Linked DNA regions of Homo sapiens: regions 2, 3 and 4 are each linked to region 1. The links come from fine-mapping of genetic effects on gene expression. A gene starts in region 1. Each other region holds a variant in brackets. All regions are shown on one strand. Distances are between the middles of the regions. Region 1 holds the start of WWP2 (WW domain containing E3 ubiquitin protein ligase 2). Region 2 overlaps WWP2 (WW domain containing E3 ubiquitin protein ligase 2). Region 3 has its middle 15 kb from the start of MIR1972-2. Region 4 overlaps WWP2 (WW domain containing E3 ubiquitin protein ligase 2).

Region 1 (5,149 bases):
TCCAAAATGTTATCATACATGTTTATACATTATATGATCGTTTACTATAACATAAAAAGTATCAATGAGACATTTTACTTTTCTTCATGCTAAGTCTTCAAAATCCAGAATGTATTTTATGCTCACAGCATAGCTCCAGTGCTCAGCAGCCCCATGTGGCTAGTGTACACCATACTGGACTCTACAACAATGCCTGGCAAAGACAGAGTGGGTACTTATAAATATTCACTGAATGAAAGAATGTTTTCCCAGGAAGAGGAAGCTATGGTAGAGTACAGCGTTTTCTAAACTTCATTTACTCACATTCTACATTCACAACTTTTTCTGTGTGATCTTTTTCCTTAAAATGTTACACTTTTTATTCCTGAAAAATTATGTAAAAATAAAACTTTCAGTTGGGCATGGTGACTTACACCTGTAATTGCAACACTTTGAGAGGCCGAGGTGGGAGGATCGCTTGAGCCCCGGAGTTTGAAAACAGCCCGGGCAACATAGCAAAACCCCTGTCTCTACAAAAATTAGCCAGGCGAGGTGGCACCCACCTGTAGTCCCAGCTGTTTGGGAGGCAGACATGGGAGGATCACCCGAGCCCAGGCAGGTCAAGGTTACAGTGAGCCGTGATTGTGCCACTGCACTCCAGCCTGGGCAACAGAGTAAGATCCTGTCTCAAAATAAAATAAAAATAAAATTTTCTATTGTGTCAATAAATGAAAAAGAATGGATCTAAGGATTAAGGGTCTGGGCTTGAGTCCCTACTCATTTACTAGCTCTGAAATCTAAAGTAAGGACTTCATTAAGCCTCAGTCTCTTCATGTGATATAGGGACAATACTGACCATCCCAATTTCAAAGGGAAGGTTAAGTGAGATGTTGGTATACGCTCTTTGTAAATGGGAAAGTAATCATGAAGTGAAAGAGACTGAGAAGCCAATCCAAGCCTTTCTCTCGAGCCTGTTTTCATATGGACCAATGACACAGATAATCACAAGCTTCTCTGACAAGAAAAAGAGTAGAAGACTTGGGTTCAAATCCTTTGTCACCACTTACGCCGGTGTGACTTTTAGAAATGCATTTATTCACCAAATATTTATCAAGTGCTCACAACATGCCAGGCACTAGGCTAGCAGCCAAATAAAATATGAAACCTGCCCTTGAAGGATTTGCAATCTAGCAGGAAGAGGCCAGCAAACAAGAAAGAGCAATAAATTGTTTTAAAAAATCAAGTCGTCTCTCGTAAGTCTGTTTGTTCCCTGTGAAATGAGAATACATCTTCCCAACCTCACTCATAGGCGCTGCTGCAAAAACTAATTTTTAAATGTTTGTCAAATAACTCCAAAAACTTGAACTCATAATACATTAGGAAAGTACTTTTTCCTACTTGTAACCCAAAACGATGCTGGCTGCTGTGAATGTCCAGTTTGAACATTCGTTCCAGTTACACTGCACTCATGAAACTCCTTTTGCTTCTGCAAATTTTAGTAAACATGAGAAACAGGAAGATGAACAGGCTTTAACACAAGTATTCAATCTCAAAATCATGATCCAGGTCACAGTTCTAAGGAACATAACACAGACCTCTCAGGCACCCTACCTAGTTACAGTTCGTCAAGATAAGCAGTCACAAGATAAGCTAAGGGAAACTGAATAATTTAAACGGAAGAAAGAGAAAAGTCATAAAGCAGTCTAGGTAGACACTTCTCTGTCCAAGATTTCAGCAGTCACTATGTTGCTGAGGTAACGCTGGGCTAGGTCAACAGTGTAAGCTAAAAGCCATTTTACAGGCAAAGTGCCCACACTTATTTTTTTAATTTATTTTCTTTTTTTGTTTTTTAAAGCCTCGATGATGGCCCGTTCAGGGAAAATCTCAAAGAAAAATGAGCTGAAGGGCTAGGCTCCCAAGAAGTGGAAACCCTACCCACGCAGGACTAAGTGGGCGCGAGGGAAGCAAGACGATCAAGATTCTGTGATCCCTCCTGAAGTTTAAAAACTGAATGGGACCGTCATCAAAGTCTCGGGTAACAATCATTTCCAAACAGGAAGGAAGGGAGAGACTCTCAGAGGGGGTCCAGGCAGCATCTTTTTCCCTCTGGCTCCACGCCATAAACCCATTTTCAGGCACCCCCTTCCAGCTCAGTTCCAAGTCGCCCCTTCCCCTGGTCCCGATCCCTCCACAAAGATCGCTCCTCTCCATGCCTGGGAACCTAAGCTCCTCTCCCCTTCCGGGAGGACTCGCTCCAGCTGCACCCTTGGCGGCCGGGGCACCCATTTCGGAGCAACCCCCGCGCGGGCCGCGGCGCGCCCACCCCACTCGGGCGGGAGCCGGGACACCCCTCCTCGGAGGCCGGAACCGCCGCGCCAGGCCCCTCCCACAGGAAGCCGCCGCCCCCCGACGCCCGGGCCGCGCCGCCCCCGGCCCACCCCGCGCCGCCCGCCGCCCCCGGCCCGCCCCGTGCAGGCAGCCAGCCCACCGCGCCCCCCGCGCCAGCGCTCGCTACCTGCCGTGGCCACAGAAGCGGCGCCGAACTCCTCTCCTACTTCCGCCTTCCACCGCCCGCACTCGGGCCGGGTCACGTGACCGCGCGCGGTCACCTGACCCGGAAGAGGCTGGCCAGGCTCGCAGGTGCGGGCCACCTAGGCCTGGCCTGGGCACCTCTGGCCTCGAGGAGGCCTTTTTATCGTCTCTGTAGTTGAAAGTGGAAGGGTTTCTGCTCACCGGATGGTCCCAGGCAATCAAATAAATTGAGGGCTCACTGAATGCCACCTACTCTGCCCATCAACCTTATAGAGGCAGGGACAGGTACTAGCCCCATTTTACAGGTGAAACGAGACCTTCAGACTGTTAAGTCAGCAAATACTTAATTGAGCTCCTTTAGTAGGGTTGCCAGATAAAGTACAGGACACCCACTTAAATTTGAATTTCAGATAAACAACAGTGTAATATGTATGTCCCAAATACAGAATGGGACATATTTATACTAAAAAAAGTATTTTTTGATTATCTGAAGATCAAATTGAATTGAGTATCTGTATTTCTATTTCCTGGCAACCTTATGCCTATTATGTGCCAGGCACTGTTCTAAGATCCAGGACCACAAACATCTCAGCCTTTGTGGGGCATCTGTCCTTGTGACATGAAGCAAAAGTACAAAAGCTTAAAAACTCCTGCTTGGCTCCATAAAAAGCCCCTCCACACTAATCCAATCGCATTCCCTTAATCTACAACTACAGGGCACAGAGAACTTAATGAATTATAATCCAGGTAGGTAGGTAGGTAGGTAGGTGGATAGATAGATGATATTTTTTTTTTTTTTTTTGAGATGGAGCCTCGCTCTGTCGCCCAGGCTGGAGTGCAGTGGTGCAGTCTCAGCTGACTGCAACCTCCGTCTCGCCGGTTCATGCAATTCTCCTGCCTCAGCCTCCCGAGTAGCTGGGATTACAGGCGTGCACCACCACGCCTGGCTAATTTTTGCATTTTTAGTAGAGACAGGGTTCCTCCATGTTGACCAGTCTGGTCTCGAACACCTGACTTCAAATGATCCGCCCACCTTGGCCTCCCAAAGTGCTGGGATTACAGGCATGAACCACCGCACCTGGCAGAGAAATATTTTTTTTAAGAGATGGGTCTGGATAGGTTGCTTTGGCTGGGCTCGAACTCCCAGCTTCAAGCAGTCCTCTTGCTTCAGCCTCCCAAGTAGCTGAGACTACAGGCGAATGCCACTGTGCCTGCCCAATAACTTTATTTATTTATTTATTTATTTATTTATTTGCTTGCTTGAGACAGAGTTTCACTCTTGTAGCCCAGGCAGGAGTGCAGTGGCTCAATCTTGGCTCACTGCAACCTCTGCCTCCCAGGTTCAAGCAATTCTCCTTCCTCAGCCTCCTGAGTAGCTGGGACTACAGGCACCCACCACCATGCCTGGCTAATTTTTGTATTTTTAATAGAGATGGGGTTTCACCATGTTGGCCAGGCTGGTCTCAAACTCCTAACCTCAGATGATCCACCTGCCTTGGCCTCCCAAAGTGCTCAGATTATAGGCGTGAGCCAATGCGCCCGGCCTCCAAGAACATTTTAAATAGACATTCTTGACTGATGTTCTGGACAAGTTGAATGAAGGCTCAGTTTAATCACCATTGATTAAAATTAATACTAATGACGTAATTAGCCTCAAAGACTTGTACTAATCTGTTATTTTTGGGTCTTCGAATTGGGATGGATTCTATCATGCATACAAATTAAATTGGCTGGTGGGGCGTGGAGGCTCACGCCTGTAATCCCAGCACTTTGGGAGGCAGAGGCAGGTGGATTACCTGAGGTCGGGAGTTCGAAACCCACTTGGCCAACCTGGTGAAACCCCATCTCTACTAAAACTACAAAAAAAAAAAAAAAAAAGATTCGCCGGGCATGGTCCGGGTGCGGGTAATCCCAGGTACTCCAGAACCTGAGGCAGGAGAATTGCTTGAACCCGGGAGGCGGAGGTGGCAGTGAGCCATGATAACGCCTCTGCACTCCAGCCTGGGCGACAGAGTGAGACTCTGTATCTAAATAAATAAATAGGTTGAACACTTAGTCTCTACTTTTTGTAGTACCACTCCAAATCCAAGAGATTAACTTTCAAGGAGATACAGTCCTGTCTTTGTACATTAAACCCTATATTAGTCTCATTTATAAAACTACTATAACTAAAACTTCTCCAGTTCCATTGATGGCAGTTTTACTAATTCTGTTCTAGATAAATTAGAGACTATTTCCTTGACTTACTAGCATTTGTTGGTTTCGGTTTGTTTTCTTCTTTCATATTTCATTTTTTATCTTTTGTTGCTTTTTTTTAACAACCCTGCAGAAAAGATTTAGTGGCATCTGAGTAAGTGTTCACCAAAGGGGAGAAGGGACAAGCAAAGAGCACACACTGCACATTAAAAGAATAAAATCTGACAGGGTGCGGTGGCTGGCACCTGTAATCCCAGTACTTTGGGAGGCCAAGGCGGGCAGATCAGACTGTCAGGGGCTCGAGATCAGACTGGGCAACATGGTGAAAACCCATCTCTACAAAAAATACAAATATTAGCTGGGCATGGTGGCACACACCCGTAGTCCCAGCTAATCAGGAGCCTGAGGCTTGAGAATCGCTTGAACCTGGGAGGCGGAGGTT
Region 2 (5,149 bases), 170 kb before region 1:
CAGGCTGGAGTGCAGTGGCACGGTCCAGCTCACTGCAGAGCAGTGGCACGGTCCAGCTCACTGCAGTCTCCACCTCCCAGGTTCAAGTGATTCTCATGCATCAGCTTCCCGAGTAGCTGGGATTACAGGTGTCCACCACCATGCCTGGCTAATTTTTTATATTGTTAGTAGAAAGAGGGTTTCACTATTTTGGCCAGGCTGGTCTTGAACTCCTGACCTCAAGTGATCTGCCCACCTCGGCCTGGGTGGGAAGCCAAGGAACCCAAAGTGGAAAGCCACTGAATTGTGTATCTTAAAAAACTTAAATGGGTTGGGCACAGTGGCTCACGCCTGTAATCCCAGCACTTTGGGAGGGTGAGATGGAAGGACTGCTTGAGCCCAGGAGTTCAGGACCAGGCTGGGCACCATAGCAAGACCCTGTCTCTATTGAAAAAAAAAAAATTAATAGTTAATTGTATGTTATACAAATTTCACCTCCACAAAAAATTTGTATACGTACATATGCACACAGACATGTACTAAGAATACCTGTAATCGCTATTTTTTTTTGTATGCTGTATTTCATAACGACAACAACAAAACCCATACGTATAAAAGAATCAACACATTAATTATACATAGGATGACAGCTCTTTCTGGTTTCTGGAGCCAAGCCCCTGCCTTCCTGTCCCATCTGGCTGGCAGGGGACCTCTCAACCAGTGGCAGCTGCTGTCTGCCTGCAGGTCTGTCCCTGCACACCAGCTGGCCCAAGGCTGACCACTGACGACCTCCTGTCACATCCACTGGCCACCACTCAGCTGGAACTGTCCCCGTTCATCCCAAGGCTGGTCTATCGTCTCCTTTTGCAAGGTGTGGGAGGCAAGGACAGGGCCAAAGCTGAAGGTCCTTGCGCGTGAGGCCTCCTCAGGACCCGTTTCCTTTGGTTGATGGCCCAAATGTCCCTGCCAAGGCCTGGGCCCGGGACCCACCTGCCAGAACCACTGGATCTGCTTGCTGTTCTTGGTGTAGTGCCGGTAGATGGTGCTCTTCTGCCAGTCGCTCATGTCTATCTCCTGCATGCCGCACAGCATCAGCTGGGGAGAGGCGGCAGTCAGCATCCCCGGCAGGTCCCTCCCCGCGCATCGTCCACTCGCTAGCACTTGACATTACCCCAAACATATTCAACTAGCTATTTTTGGTGTCAGCGTTAATAATATGGGTAATGTAAGTCCCTGCTTTCTTGAAACAAGTGTCTGGGGAAGGGTGGGTCCCAAATCAAACCCATCTGCCCTGCCGAAGTGGGAGTTTTACGCTGAGTGTCTGTGGGTACACAGTGAGCGTATCACAGAGCAGGATCGCCCCAGAGGCAGGGGCTCAGGGTCCCAGCAACCTCAGACACTCACCTCCAGCTCTTTCTCGTCAAAGTAGCGCAGCCACTCCAGCGGGGCCACCTCGTTGAAGCCATCCAGGAAGGCTTTGGTCTGCTCTTCCACGCCTCGGGTGAAACGCCAGTCAGTCAGCAGCCTGAGACCAAAGAGCAGCCATGGGTGGAGTCTGAGACCCACTGCTCAGGGGTGGCTCCCGGCCAGGCCGCGTGGCCGTTACCGCGCAGGACCACCAGATCAGCAGAGCCCACTTCGCACACCCAGACCCAGCCTGCTGGAGGACCTAGAGTGAGGCCCTGAAAACCTCACAGTGACCTGCAGACACCGGAGTCTTTGAAATCATCCTCACCACCACCTCCTCCTGCTCCTGCCCCCAGCGCCGACTGAACCTCAGACGTATGGAAGCGTGGAGATAAAGACTAAAGCAAGAGGCCTGAGGAACAGGCACGGAGAACGGGCACACGTGAGACGGTGGGTCTAGGCACACAGGCCACAGAGATCCTTTCGGCCCGGAGAAAGATGCAGATGTCTCAGCTTGATGCCACTTCAAAGAAATTCCACGCTGCAGGCTTGAAGTCTCCCACATGGCGAAAAAGCACAGCTGGGAGTCGGTAACTAAGGACCTCGGCTTTGGTTCCCCCAGCTCGCGCCATCACATGACCGCCCACCAGCAGCCACCATCAAGGCAAATGCAAATGGCATCCACAGTGACCGATGGGCCACAGGTGGGGGCCCATCTTTCTCTGCAACCCACTAGATCTCCACGCCACCCCTGGAGCGGAGCCCCCGGCGCCTGAGACTCACATGATGTACTCTTCCTTGTTCTCCTCTGTGACCCGGATGCTCTCGCCGCCCTCCTTCAGCTCGTGGGTCGTCACCTTGCCCAGTATCTCCATGTCCTGGATGAAGTACAGCTCCAGGCCACATTCTTCCAGGTTGTTCTCTCTGGGGGCACAGGAGACCAAGTGGGGAGATGTCTACCGTGTCAGGGTCTTTCCTGGATCCTGCTCTGTTGCCCGTGGGACACCAAGGGCCCACAGGTGGCCTAGAATCCTGAACAGTGACAGGGGACAGCTCCTTGACTCAAGGAGAAGGTTCTAGAACTGTCCCCAGGGAACCCAGAGGACATTCCTCTCCACAAGCTCTTATAGAGGCTGGAAAAGAGCTCAGGGGCCACACTGGCAGACAAAATAAAGGCCATCAGTACCTGCTTCCCACCCAGAGACGTCCCTCCTATCAGCGCGGTGGGGCAAGGGGGCAGGGAACTCACTTGATCCAGACAATGGAGTTGTAGAACTCAGGGTCAATGGACTCCAGGTCTTTCAGGGTTGGTCTCTTATTGAGCATCCGCTTGTAGAAAGGGAGGGTGAAGCCCGTGTCGATGAACTTTCCATGGTACAGCGCCTGGGAAGGAAGAGGCACAGCACAGAGGTTTGGCCTTCCCTGGGCACTGCCAAGACCAGCTCTCAGATGCTCGGTATCAAACTCTGCTACCGCTACCCGCCTTCCTTCCCTGACAGAACTACAGCAGCAGCTGCCTCGGACGCAGCGGGAGGGCCTCAGGAGTAAACAACGCCTTTATCCTGACTTGTACCTACAGAGGGACTCCCACCCTGCCCTGCAGACCGCAAGGACTGGGCAGAGCCAGCTGGTGCGGGAACCCACGTCCGGGCCCGCATCTGCCCCGCACGCTGGCCGGCTGGCTCCTGGCCTAGCAAAGGTCTGCCCCACGCTCACAGAAAAGGCTTGCTCTGAACAGCTGCAGGTGGCAGCCCTGATTCACTGGCGCTCAGGGTGGGTGGCAAAGGCAGCCAAAAATAATGCAGACACCGCCGACAGCGAGAGCTGGCGGCCAATGGT[G/C]AGTAATAGTCTAGGGTTTTACCGGTCTGTCCTGCTGGCTGCTGGGCCAGGCGGGTCTCTAGACCTGGGAAGAATGTGCCCATTTCCAGAGCCCAGCACCTTGGCCAAGAACTCCTCGACGATGGGAAGGGCCGGCCATATTTAGTCACAGGCTCATGGGGCGCTTGGGTCCTCCTAAGAGGGGAGCCGGGTGGGACACTCAGGAAGGCAGGGGAAGAAGCGAAGGAAAGGAGAATTGAAACATCTCCAGCTATGCATGTGGCTCCCGCGCTGTGCCTCCCACGGGCTCCGCTTCTCAATCCGGGTTCTCCACGCTCCCAGGACCCTCAACGGGGCACGTGGCAGGACCTCCCTTTCCATATTCACATTGTGTCCCTCTTTCCAGTTAAATACAGACGCTGGGACGCCCCTCCCCAGAACTGGCTCACTTTCTGACAGATGTCCCTACACCCTGCACCAGCCAGTCTACTGTTCACCAGGAGGCAGCGTGGCGTGAACGGCAGCGCCCATGGACTGGCGCGCCCTCTCTGGGCTCTACCCTTCGCCCCCATAGAGCTGGTAACCTAAAAATGTAAAAAGCTGGAGATAGTTCTGGAGAAACCAGAGCTTTCTCAGTGGCTGCCCTGTAGGTACTGAAGAGTTTCCATGTTGCTTTGCATAGGACTTGTCAAGAGGGGGCCCAGGGTCTCTGGGCCACAGACTTTACGTTTTGTTCTACACTAGTGTTGATTCCAAATGCCCTTCCAGAAGGCTTAGTGTCTCAGTGGGACATTCCCAAATGCCGTGACAGTGTCACCTCCCAGAGACAGGCAGCAGGTGGGCAGCTATGGTTTCACCTGGCCCTGTCATCCCAAGGCCCTCAACAGAGCACATATTTAATGTTCAGTAAAGTCTGTGGCCCAGCGACCCTGGGCTCCCTCTTGACAAGTCCTGTACAAAGCAACATGGAAACTCTTCACTACCTACAGGGCAGCCACTGAGAAAGCTCTGGTTTCTCCAGAACTCTCTCTAGCTTCTTGCATTTTTAGGTTACGAGCTCTATGGGGGCAAAGGGTGGAGCCCCGAGAGGGTGAGCCAGTCCACGGGGGCTGCCGTTCACGCCACGCTGCCTCCTGGTGAACAGGCCCAGGGCCTCCTCCAATGCTGCCCCTTCCTGGAGGTCTCAGAGAAAGAGCAGATTCCCCTGGTGCCCCTGGCACACTTCACCAGGAGAGGGAAGAGGAGGGAGAGGAGGAGGGAACTAGGCAGACCCCTGGGGCCCCCTTACCATGGCGATGAATCTGCCTATAAAGCGAAAGTAGGTGAGGTGGTCCGGGTTGATGGAGGAGGCGGGGTTGATCTGCAGGCAGTAATTGTTCTTTCCGGCATATTCAAATAAACAATACATAGGGTTGAGCACCTCATGAGACAGGAGGAAAAACCACTCTCTGTGAGGGAAGAGACAGAAAAGACAAGAATAATGGGTCCCTTCGTGCACATCTGCACAGGAGCTGTGTCTCTTCACCATCGTGTCTCAGGTTAGTATGGGGACACGTGTCCCAGGGAGTCGAGCCCTGTGACAAGCACCCGGGCTAACCTATATGAACAGCTGGTCAGTGAACAGGGCAGGCTCAGACCTACAGTGAACCAGGGCGGCAACTGCATTTGAGGATGATATTTGGGAAAACGTGTGATTGTCGGCTCCCAGGTGATGTGTTCCAAGACTTTACATCACAATATCCAGAGCTTCTAATGGTAAAGGGGGTCCTTGTACCCTGGGTCACCATGCTCAGTTGCCTAGGCTGTGCACTGCACAAGGGCACGATGCATGTTTATTACAATAATTTTTCTGCAAAGGTTCTGTTTGAATAGTAACTACCCTGTTTCCACTCTACCTGGGCGGGCAACATAACGTAAATACACAGCAACACATTTCCAACCCCGA
Region 3 (5,149 bases), 280 kb before region 1:
TCCCAAGTAGCTAGGACTACAGGTGTGCACCACCACACCCAGCTAATTTATTTCTCACTATGTTGCCCAAGCTGATCTGAAACTCCTGGCCTCAAGTGATTCTTCTGCCTTGGCCTCCCAAAGAATTTTTTTCTTCTTTTCAATGACACTTTTTTTTTTTTAATTTAAAAAAAAAATTTTTTTTAATTATACTTTTTAAGTTTTAGGGTACGTGTGCACAACGTGCAGGTTTGTTACATATGTATACATGTGCCATGTTGGTGTGCCACACCCATTAACTCTTCATTTAACGTTAGGTATATCTCCTAATGCTATCCCTCCTCCCTCCCCCCACCCCACAACAAGCAACAGTGTATGATGTTCCCCTTCCTGTGTCCATGTAGTCTCATTGTTCAATTCCCACCTATGAGTGAGAACATGTGGTGTTTGTTGTTTTGTCCTTGAGACAGTTTGCTGAAAATGATGGCTTCAAGCTTCATCCATGTCCCTACAAAGGACATGAACTCACCATTTTTTGTGGCTGCATAGTATTCCATGGTGTATATGTGCCACATTTTCTTAATCCAGTCTATCATTGATGGACATTTGGGTTGGTTCCAAGTCTTTGCTATTGTGAATAGTGCCACAATAAACATACGTGTGCATGTGTCTTTATAGCGGCATGATTTATAATCCTTTGGGTATATACCCAGTAATGGGATGGCTGCATCAAATGGTATTTCTAGTTCTAGATCCCTGAGGAATCGCCACACTGACTTCCACAATGGTTGAACTAGTTTAGCGTCCCAACAGTGTAAAAGTGTTCCTATTTCTCCACATCCTCTCCAGCACCTGTTGTTTCCTGACTTTTTAATGATTGCCATTCTAACTGGCGTGAGATGGTATCTCATTGTGGTTTTGATTTGCATTCTCTGATGGCCAGTGATGATGAGCATTTTTTCATGTGTCTTTTGGCTGCATAAATGTCTTCTTTTGAGAAGTGTCTGTTCATATCCTTCGCCCACTTTTTGATGGGGTTGTTTTTTTTCTTGTAAATTTGTTTGAGTTCATTGTAGATTCTGTCTATTAGCCCTTTGTCAGGTGAGTAGACTGCAAAAATTTTCTCCCATTCTGTAGGTTGCCTGTTCACTCTGATGGTGGTTTCTTTTGCTGTGCAGAAGCTCTTTAGTTTAATGAGATCCCATTTGTCAATTTTGGCTTTTGTTGCCATTGCTTTTGGTGTTTTAGACATGAAGTCCTTGCCCATGCCTGTGTCCTGAATAGTATTGCCTAGGTTTTCTTCTAGGGTTTTTATGGTTTTAGGTCTAACGTTTAAGTCTTTAATCCATCTTGAATTAATTTTTGTATAAGATGTAAGGAAGGGATCCAGTTTCAGCTTTCTACATATGGCTAGCCAGTTTTCCCAGCACCATTTATTAAATAGGGAATCCTTTCCCCATTTCTTGTTTTTGTCAGGTTTGTCAAAGATCAGATAGTTGTAGATATGCAGCATTATTTCTGAGGGCTCTATTCTGTTCCATTGGTCTATATCTCTGTATTGGTACCAGTACCATGCTGTTTTGGTTACTGTAGCCTTGTAGTATAGTTTGAAGCCAGGTAGCGTGATGCCTCCAGCTTTGTTTTTCTGGCTTAGGAGTGACTTGGCAATGTGGGCTCTTTTTTGGTTCCATATGAACTTTAAAGTAGTTTTTTCCAATTCTGTGAAGAAAGCCATTGGTAGCTTGATGGGGATGGCATTGAATCTATAAATTACCTTGGGCAGTGTGGCCGTTTTCACGATATTGATTCTTCCTACCCATGAGCATGGAAAGTTCTTCCATTTGTTTGTATCCTCTTTTATTTCATTGAGCAGTGGTTTGTAGTTTTCCTTGTAAGTTGGATTCCTAGGTATTTTATTCTCTTTGAAGCAATTGTGAATGGGAGTTCACTCATGATTTGGCTCTCTGTTTGTCTGTTATTGGTGTATAAGAATGCTTGTGATTTTTGTACATTGATTCTGTATCCTGAGACTTTGCTGAAGTTGCCTATCAGTTTAAGGAGATTTTGGGCTGAGACGATGGGGTTTTCTAGATATACAATCATGTCATCTGCAAACAGGGACAATTTGACTTCCTCTTTTCCTAATTGAATACCCTTTATTTCCTTCTCCTGCCTCATTGCCCTGGCCAGAACTTCCAACACTGTGTTGAATAGGAGTGGTGAGAGAGGGCATTCCTGTCTTGTGCCAGTTTTCAAAGGGAATGCTTCCAGTTTTTGCCCATTCAGTATGATATTGGCTGTGGGTTTGTCATAAATAGCTCTTATTATTTTGAGATACGGTCCATCAATACCCAATTTATTGAGAGTTTTTAGCATGAAGGGTTGTTGAATTTTGTCAAAGGGCTTTCTGCATCTATTGAGATAATCGTATGGTTTTTGTTGTTGGTTCTGTTTATATGCTGGATTACATTTATTGATTTGCGTATGTTGAACCAGCCTTGCATCCCAGGGATGAAGCCCACTTGATCATGGTGGATAAGCTTTTTCATGTGCTGCTGGATTCGGTTTGCCAGTGTTTTATTGAGGATTTTTGCATCGATGTTCATCACGGATATTGGTCTAAAATTCTCTTTTTTTGTTGTGTCTCTGCCGGGCTTTGGTATCAGAATAATGCTGGCCTCATAAAATGAGTTAGGGAGGATT[C/T]CCTCTTTTTCTATTGATTGGAATAGTTTCAGAAGGAATGGTACCAGCTCCTCCTTTTACCTCTGGTAGAATTCGGCTGTGAATCCATCTGGTCCCGGATTTTTTTTGGTTGGTAAGCTCTTAATTATTGCCACAATTTCAGAGCCTGTTATTGGTCTATTCAGAGATTCAACTTCTTTCTGGTTTAGTCTTGGGAGGGTGTATGTGTCGAGGAATTTATCCATTTCTTCTAGATTTTCTAGTTTATTTGCATAGAGGTGTTTATAGTATTCTGTGACGGTAGTTTGTATTTCTGTGGGATCGGTGGTGATATCCCCTTTATCATTCAGTGAAACTTTTTACAAATAAAAACTTTACTCAAAACCCTGTTATACAAAACAGAGCTGATCTGCTAGGGAGTTAGAAGCCCCAACTGCTTACCTAACCCTTCCTTCTCAGAGTCCTCCCAGGGACCTTAAGGCTCAGGAGAACACAGCTGGAAAATCCCTGGACTAGATCCCTTAGGTCCCTTCTAGAATGTAACAATTTCTGAATCTTATGTTGATAAATGGAGTGGAATTTCTTAAAAACAATTTTGAGGAGGCAATGCAGTTTTAAATATGTACGTATTGTATGCCATGCTGTAAGATATTGCTAGATACAGTGAGCAATAGGAAAAGGTAAACACAGCTCTTCCTTTAAGCAGCACACTTAGAAGAGTAAGAGGGGAACAAAAGAGCTATAACTTATATATGATATTATATGTATTATATGTAATATATATAATTTATTGTTATAACACAACTCATACTACATAGAGATTGAAGTCAACAAGAATTTTCTCCCTAAAAATAACTACAGAGATTAAGAATAGAGAAAGGAAAATGAATGTGTATGTTTTAATTCTGCAAAAAGTTCGGGCACAGTGGCTCAGCCTGTAATCCCAGCAGAAGGATAACTTGAGCTCAGGAGTTTGAGACCAGCCTATGCGGCATAATGAGACCCTTGTATCTACAAAAAAATTGTGAAAATTAGCAAGGCATGGTGGCGAGCACTTGTATTCCCAGGTACTCAGGAGGCTGAGGTGGGAGGATCACTTGATCCCTGGAGGTCAAGGCTGCAGTGAGCCACGATCAAACCACTGTACCCCAGTCTGTGTAACAGAGCGACTGTCTCAAAAATAATATTTGTCAAAATAGCATGTCTTTGTATCACTGCCACATTGCTTGTCTGAAGCGAAGCTGACTCACTTTGTTATCATAAGTGATCTTACCAAAGACCAAGTTGTCCAGTTGCCTTGGAGTGTAGGTCATGCGTTGCCGGTACCCTGGGGCTGTGTACAATGGCCAGGCTGAGGGGACCTTGTGGTTACCCCCATGGGACTTGTAACTTGTCAAGTGGGAAGGTGGTACCAAGTGAAGAAGGGTAGGGTCCTTGGTTTTGGCCTCACGTGGTTCTTCCCAGAATGAATGGTGAAAAAATTATAATTCTGCAGAAAAATTTAAATTCTATTTTGTTTACTTTTTGGATGGGAGATAGGTGTACACATGGCACTAAAATTCAAAAGGAACTTAAGGAGGCCAGGCACGGTGGCTCACACCTGCAATCCCAGCACTTTGGGAAGCTAAGGTGGCCAGATCACTTGAGGTCAAGAGTTCGAGACTAGCATGGCCAACATGGTGAAACCCCCCGTCTCTACTAAAAATATAAAAATTAGCTGGGCATGGTGGTGTGTGCCTGTAATCCCAGCTACTTGGGAGGCTGAGGCAAGAGAATCACTTGAACCCAGGAGGCAGAGGTTGCAGTGAACAAGGTCATGCCATTGCACTCTAGTCTGGGCAACAGAGTAAGACTCCATCTCAAAAAATAAAAATAAAAACAGCAGCTTCCTCTAGGAAGTGGGGCTGGAAGACTTTTACTTTTTCTGTTATACTTTTGTACTATTGCAGGTTTTAAAATCATGTACTTCACAGTAAATCCAGAAGAAATTATGCACTTAATTTTTCTGGGTGAATTGTGTTGTAGAGGTAATAGAGGATTATTAAAATTTCTTTCTTTTTTTTTTTTTTCCCCAGATAGCAGACCCCACGTTAGCTGAAATGGGAAAAAACTTGAAGGAGGCAGTGAAGATGCTGGAGGACAGTCAGAGGTGAGTAGGACAGAGGTGACCCTGTTCAACGAGTTCAGCCTGCTGTGAAGCCAGTGGCTCTGGGTTCTTTCTGTTAAAGGTGCCTCTTGGCTTCACAGTGTCACACACAGCTTCGGCTGACTTGAAAATTGGTGTTTGTCTTGGGTAAAAGGTGCCTTGTAATTAAAGGATTTTGAAATTGAGAGGAAAGACTTATACTATTTAATTCTGTCTATTAAGAGTTTCATTTACTTAATATATTGATTTGACTCTATAAATACTTATTATATATTCAGGTCATATAGAGCACCAAGTAAACAAGAAGTGGGTGGAACTTTTTTGTTGCATATTCTTGTCTTT
Region 4 (5,149 bases), 63 kb before region 1:
GGTATCAAAGCCATGTTTATAAACACCTTCCAAAGAACAAACCTCCTTTTAAATGTTCTTTGCAGAGCAAAATGTAGGAGTCCTCTTAGAAAATTATTTTTTAAGGTTACAATTCTGCTTTTAAAAAAATTCCCTTGTATACATTGGAGTTTTTTTACAAATTATAATTTCAGATGAGGGACCTATTATGCCCCAATTAAGATTTGGATTAGTGATTATAAAGCGTATACAACAACATGGAAAATTATTCATACCACAAAGTTAAGTTTTTATTTTTTTTGAGATGGAGTCTCTGTCGCCCAGGCTGGAGTGCAGTGGCGCGATCTTGGCTCACTGCAACCTCTGACATTATAGAATGCACCCTATTACTAAAATCATGTAAAAATAAGTATACAAAGGGGCAAAGAAATAAATGAACCAGGGAAAAATGATAAGTTGTGTTTGAGCAGTAAGATTATGAAACAAAGATTTTCTTTGTTCAATTTCCATTAATTCCACAGTAGTTTTTTTTTTTTCATAATTTCCATTTCAGTTAAACATTAGACATGTATGCAGGAGTGTCAACAAGTGAAATGACACAAGGCATGAGATTTTCTTGCAAATACTTCCCCAAAAGATGGGAGCTAAAGATGAAGGACAAGTAGATGTGTGCTGGTTATCATTTAAGCTGGGTAACTGGTGCTAGATGGTCCATTATTCTCTCCGCCCCCCCCCCTTTTTTTTTTTTTTTTGAGGTGGAGTCTCGCTCTGTCACCCAGGCTGGAGTGCAGTGGCACGATCTCGGCTTACTGCAAGCTCCGCCTACCGGGTTCACACCATTCTCCTGCCTCAGCCTCCTGAGGAGCTGGGACTACAGGCACCTGCCACCATGTCCGGCTAATTTTTTTTTGTATTTTTATTAGAGACGGGGTTTCACCGTGTTAGGCTAATTTTTTTTTTTTTTTTTGTATTTTTATTAGAGAGAGGGTTTCACCATGTTAGCCAGGATGGTCTCGATCTCCTGACCTCGTGATCCACCCGCCTCGGCCTCCCAAAGTGCTGGGATTACAGGCCTTAGCCACCGTGCCCGGCTCCACTTTTTTTTTTTTTTTTTTTTTTGAGACGGAGTCTCACTCTGTTGCCCAGCCTGGAGTGCAATGGCACTATTTCGGCTTACTGCAACCTCTGCCTCCTGGGTTCAGCCAATTCTCCTGTCTCAGCCTCCCAAGTAGCTGGGACTACAAGCACCCACCATCACGCCCGGCTAATTTTTTTGTGTGTATTTTTAGTAGAGACAGAGTTTCACTATGTTGGCCAAGCTGGTCTCGTACTCCTGGCCTTGTGATCTGCCTGCCTCGGCCTCCCAAAGTGCTGGGATTACAGGCATAAGCCACTGCGCCTGGTCTACTTTTTTTTTTTTTTTGAGACGGAGTTTCACTCTTGTCACCCAGGCTGGAGTGCAGTGGTGTGATCTCAGTTCACTGCAAGCTCTGCCTCCTCAGTCCAAGCGATTCTCCTGACTCAGCCTCCTGAGTAGCTAGGATTATAGGCACCCACCACCACACCCGGCTAATTTTTGTATTTTTAGTGCAGATGGGGTTTCATGATGTTGGCCAGGCTGGTCTCAAACTCCTGACCTCAGGTGATCTGCCCACCTCAGCCTCCCAAAGTGCTGGGATTACAGGCATGAGCCACCGCGCCTGGCTGCTTCTACTTTTATTTATGTTTGAAATTTTCCATAGTAAAAAGTTTAAAAAGTATTTTCCAGGCAGGGTGTGGTGGCTCACGTCTGTAATCCCAACACTTGGAGAGGCCAAGGTGAGAAAATCCCTTGAGCCCAGTTTGAGACCAGCCTGGGCAACATAGGGAGATCCTGTGTCTACAAAAAATGTAAAAACTTAGACAGGTGTAGTGGCATGCACCTGTGGTCCCATCTACTTGGGAGGCTGAGGTGGGAGGATCACTTGAGCCCAGGAGGTCAAGGCTGCAGTGAGCTGTGATCGCACCACTACACCTCAGCCTGGGCAACAGAACAAAACCCTGTATCCAAAAAAAAAAACCAAAAAAAAAAAACCCACTTCTGCTATATCATATCGTCTTTACAATAAATAATATTAGCTTTCAAAATAAAAAATAATGTGCTCATCAAAAAAATTCAAATACAGAAAGGTAAACTATGACACCTACTCCACAAATGCACACATTCCAAAGCCTTTCCCATGGTATCGCCACTTTAGTTTTTTGGTTTTTGGGGTTTTTTTTTTTTGGAGATGGAATCTCGCTCTGTTGCCCAGGCTGGAGTGCAGTGGCACCATCTCAACTCACTGCAACCTCTGCCTCCTGGGTTCAAGGGATTCTCCTGCCTCAGCCTCCTGAGTAGCTGGGACTACAGGTGCCTGCCACCATGCCCAGCTAATTTTGTATTTTTAGTAGAGACGGGGTTTCACCATGTTGGTCAGGCTGGTCTCGAACTCCTAGCCTCAAGTGATCCGCCCACCTCAGCCTCCCAAAGTGCTGGGATTACAGGTGTGAGCCACTGCACCCAGCCAGTATCGCCCACTTTGAAAAACTTTGTATGAAGTCATTGCAAACACAAGCACAAATATACACATAAAAGCTACAGATGCAAGGCCGAGCACAGTGGCTCATGCCTGTAATCCCAGAGCCTGAGGTGGGTGGATCACCTGAGCTCAGGAGTTCGAGACCAGCCTGGCCAACAAAGTGAAACCCCATCTCTACCAAAAATACAAAAATTAGTCAGGCATGGTTGTGCATGCCTGTAATCCCAGCTCCTTGGGAGGCTGAGGCAGGAGAATCACTTGAACCCGGGAGGTGGAGGCTGCAGTGAGCCAAGAT[C/T]ACACCACTGTACTGCAGTCTGGGTGACAGAGTAAAACTCTGTCTCAAAAAAAAAAAAAAAAAAAAAGCCACAGGTGCAAAGTTGAGGTCATTCTAGGCCCAAAGCTCTGCCCTTTGATTTTTCACTTGTAATCTATGAATCTTTTCAAATATATACAGATGCACTCTATCCACTCAAGAGGGTTTGGGGATTCCTCCCTCCAAGAGAATGAATTCATGCAATACATGTGTTATAAACATTAATTAATTGAGGGAGAGAGGAAAAGGGCAAGAGGAAGGAAAAAAGGAAGGAACAAAGGGAAGGGGGAGGGAGGGGGAGGGGGGAAGGGAGGGAGGGAGGGATATTATTTTCTGAGAAGTGTGTGCCTTACTGTCCTGGATGTAATAAACAGCACTCCCAGGCCAGGCCAGGCACTGAAGTCAGAGTCCCACTCTGTACCTAATAGTGGCACTAACTGCCCACTTATGTGACTGTGACACTCTTACTCTGGTCCAGGATTACCTTCCCTTTTGACGGACCACTCTCCCACAAAGAATAAGCCTCCTACACTAAGAAAAATACTCCAAGAATCCTGGTAGTCTGAAGGAAGAGGGAAAATTAAACACTGCAATGAGATAAATGAGGTCTGATGTTAACATGGCTATTCCGGCAGCCACAGCACCTCCCCTGGGAGAACCTGGGAGGCTGGAATGGACGGTCAGGCGGAAGCCGCCCGAATGACTGGTGCGGAGCAGAGGCCCAAACACCAGATGAAGTGTTTCAGTTTTGTTTTTGGCAAGGGGAAGGAAACAGCTCACATTCAGGCAACAATCTCATTTTCCTGTCACCAGGTCAAGGCCACCATTCCCGGCCTGCAGCAGGTGTTCATTTAGGGCCTGAATGCTACACGGCTGATGAGAAACAGCACAGGCCCTTGGAGAAGATGGCCCAACGCCCCTGTGCCACAGGCTCAAGAGGAATGGAAGAAGTTTCTAGAACTGTACAAATATAACCCTACACTAATGGTAACCTGATTTCGCAGAAAAGTTTCTTCTGAAGACAAGGTGATGTTTTAACAAAAATTTTTGGCTGGGCACGGTGGCTCAAGCCTGTAATCCCAGCACTTTGGGAGGCTGGGGCAGGCAGATCACTTGAGGTCAGGAGTTCGAGGCCAGCAGGGCCAACATGGCAAAACCCCTTTTCTACTAAAAATATAAAAATTAGCTAGGTGTGGTGGTACACACCTGTAATCCCAGCTACTTGGGAGGCTGAGGCAGGAGAATCGCTTGAACCCAGGAGCACAGGCTGCAGTGAACAAGACCGCACCACTGCACTCCAGCCTGGGCAAGAAAGCAAGGCTCCACCTCAAAAAAAAAAAACACAAGAAAAAGAGAAAATTTAAATCAAAAAATTTGTAAATACAAATAAATAAATAAAAGAAGAGAAGTTTCCCAGTCTTTCTCCAGGGACTCAACCTCTAGACCTGCACTGTCCAATATGGGGGCCACAGCTACCTGCAGCCATACTTAGAAGGTGGCTGGTATGGATTAAGATGTGCTGTGTGTCAGAAAGACACACCTGAGGCCAAAAAGTATGTAAAATATCTCATTAGTACTTTTCTTTATACTGATTACATGTTAAAATAGCATTTCAGATATGTGGAAATAAGCTACATTATTAAAATTAATTTCACCTGTGTTTTTGTTTTTACTTTTTTCTTTTTTGAGACACAGTCTCGCTCTGTTGCGCAGGCTGGAGTGCAGTGGCGCGATCTTGGCTCACTGCAATCTCTGCCTCCTGGGTTCAAGTGATTCTCCTGCCTTAGCCTCCCAAGTAGCTGAGATTACGTGCCACCATGCCTGGCTAATTTTTGTACTTTTAGTAAAGATGGAGCTTTGTCATGTTGGCCAGGCTGGTCTTGAATTCCTGGCCTCAAATGATCCACTGGCCTCAGCCTCCCAAAGTGCTGGGATTGCAGGCGTGAGCCACGGTGCCTGGCCTATGTTTTGACTTATTTTTAATATGGCTAGTAGCAAATTCTAAATTATACACACACCTCAAATTCTGTTTCTATTGGACAGCACTGATCTAGCACCTGCCTCCTCCCTGCCGTTGGCCTCCTGTGTGACTTGACAGCAACCAGCTTGTTCCTGCCTCAAAGCTTCCCACATGCTGTTCCCTCCACCTAAAATGATTTTCTCTTGTTCCTCTAGACGATTCCTTTTTCTCTTTCTGGTGTCCAGGTGTCACTTCCTCCAGGAAGCCTTCCTTGATAAACACACATGCATGAACACACACACACAAACACACACACACACACACCCCACCCAGGCC

The links. PIP is the estimated chance that this variant, and not a neighbour inherited with it, causes the effect.
Region 2: its variant is the best candidate, but not a certain one, in a credible set for the expression of WWP2 in aorta (GTEx, PIP 0.84).
Region 3: its variant is the best candidate, but not a certain one, in a credible set for the expression of WWP2 in whole blood (Lepik 2017, PIP 0.89).
Region 4: its variant is the best candidate, but not a certain one, in a credible set for the expression of WWP2 in whole blood (TOPMed, PIP 0.53).

The regions. Positions count from the first base shown.
Region 1 is chr16:69,759,737-69,764,885 of GRCh38, reverse strand. It overlaps WWP2 (WW domain containing E3 ubiquitin protein ligase 2), which reads right to left and starts at 2,554. Exons shown (of 24, transcript NM_001270454.2): 1 at 2,495-2,554. RefSeq lists silencers at 2,078-2,127, 2,148-2,307, 2,328-2,467 and an enhancer at 2,171-2,749.
Region 2 is chr16:69,933,473-69,938,621 of GRCh38, reverse strand. WWP2 (WW domain containing E3 ubiquitin protein ligase 2) reads right to left here. Exons shown (of 24, transcript NM_001270454.2): 17 at 4,493-4,652; 18 at 2,636-2,769; 19 at 2,170-2,310; 20 at 1,384-1,504; 21 at 970-1,074. Among named protein-coding and RNA genes, the nearest start is that of MIR140, 3.0 kb to the right of the region's middle. RefSeq lists a silencer at 4,770-4,960. The variant G/C (reference allele first, on the strand shown) is at 3,226.
Region 3 is chr16:70,042,591-70,047,739 of GRCh38, reverse strand. It overlaps the pseudogene PDXDC2P-NPIPB14P and the pseudogene PDXDC2P. Among named protein-coding and RNA genes, the nearest start is that of MIR1972-2, 15 kb to the right of the region's middle. The variant C/T (reference allele first, on the strand shown) is at 2,683.
Region 4 is chr16:69,822,521-69,827,669 of GRCh38, reverse strand. All of the region lies in intron 4 of WWP2 (WW domain containing E3 ubiquitin protein ligase 2), which reads right to left. Among named protein-coding and RNA genes, the nearest start is that of WWP2, 63 kb to the right of the region's middle. RefSeq lists enhancers at 3,300-3,369, 3,380-3,479. The variant C/T (reference allele first, on the strand shown) is at 2,836.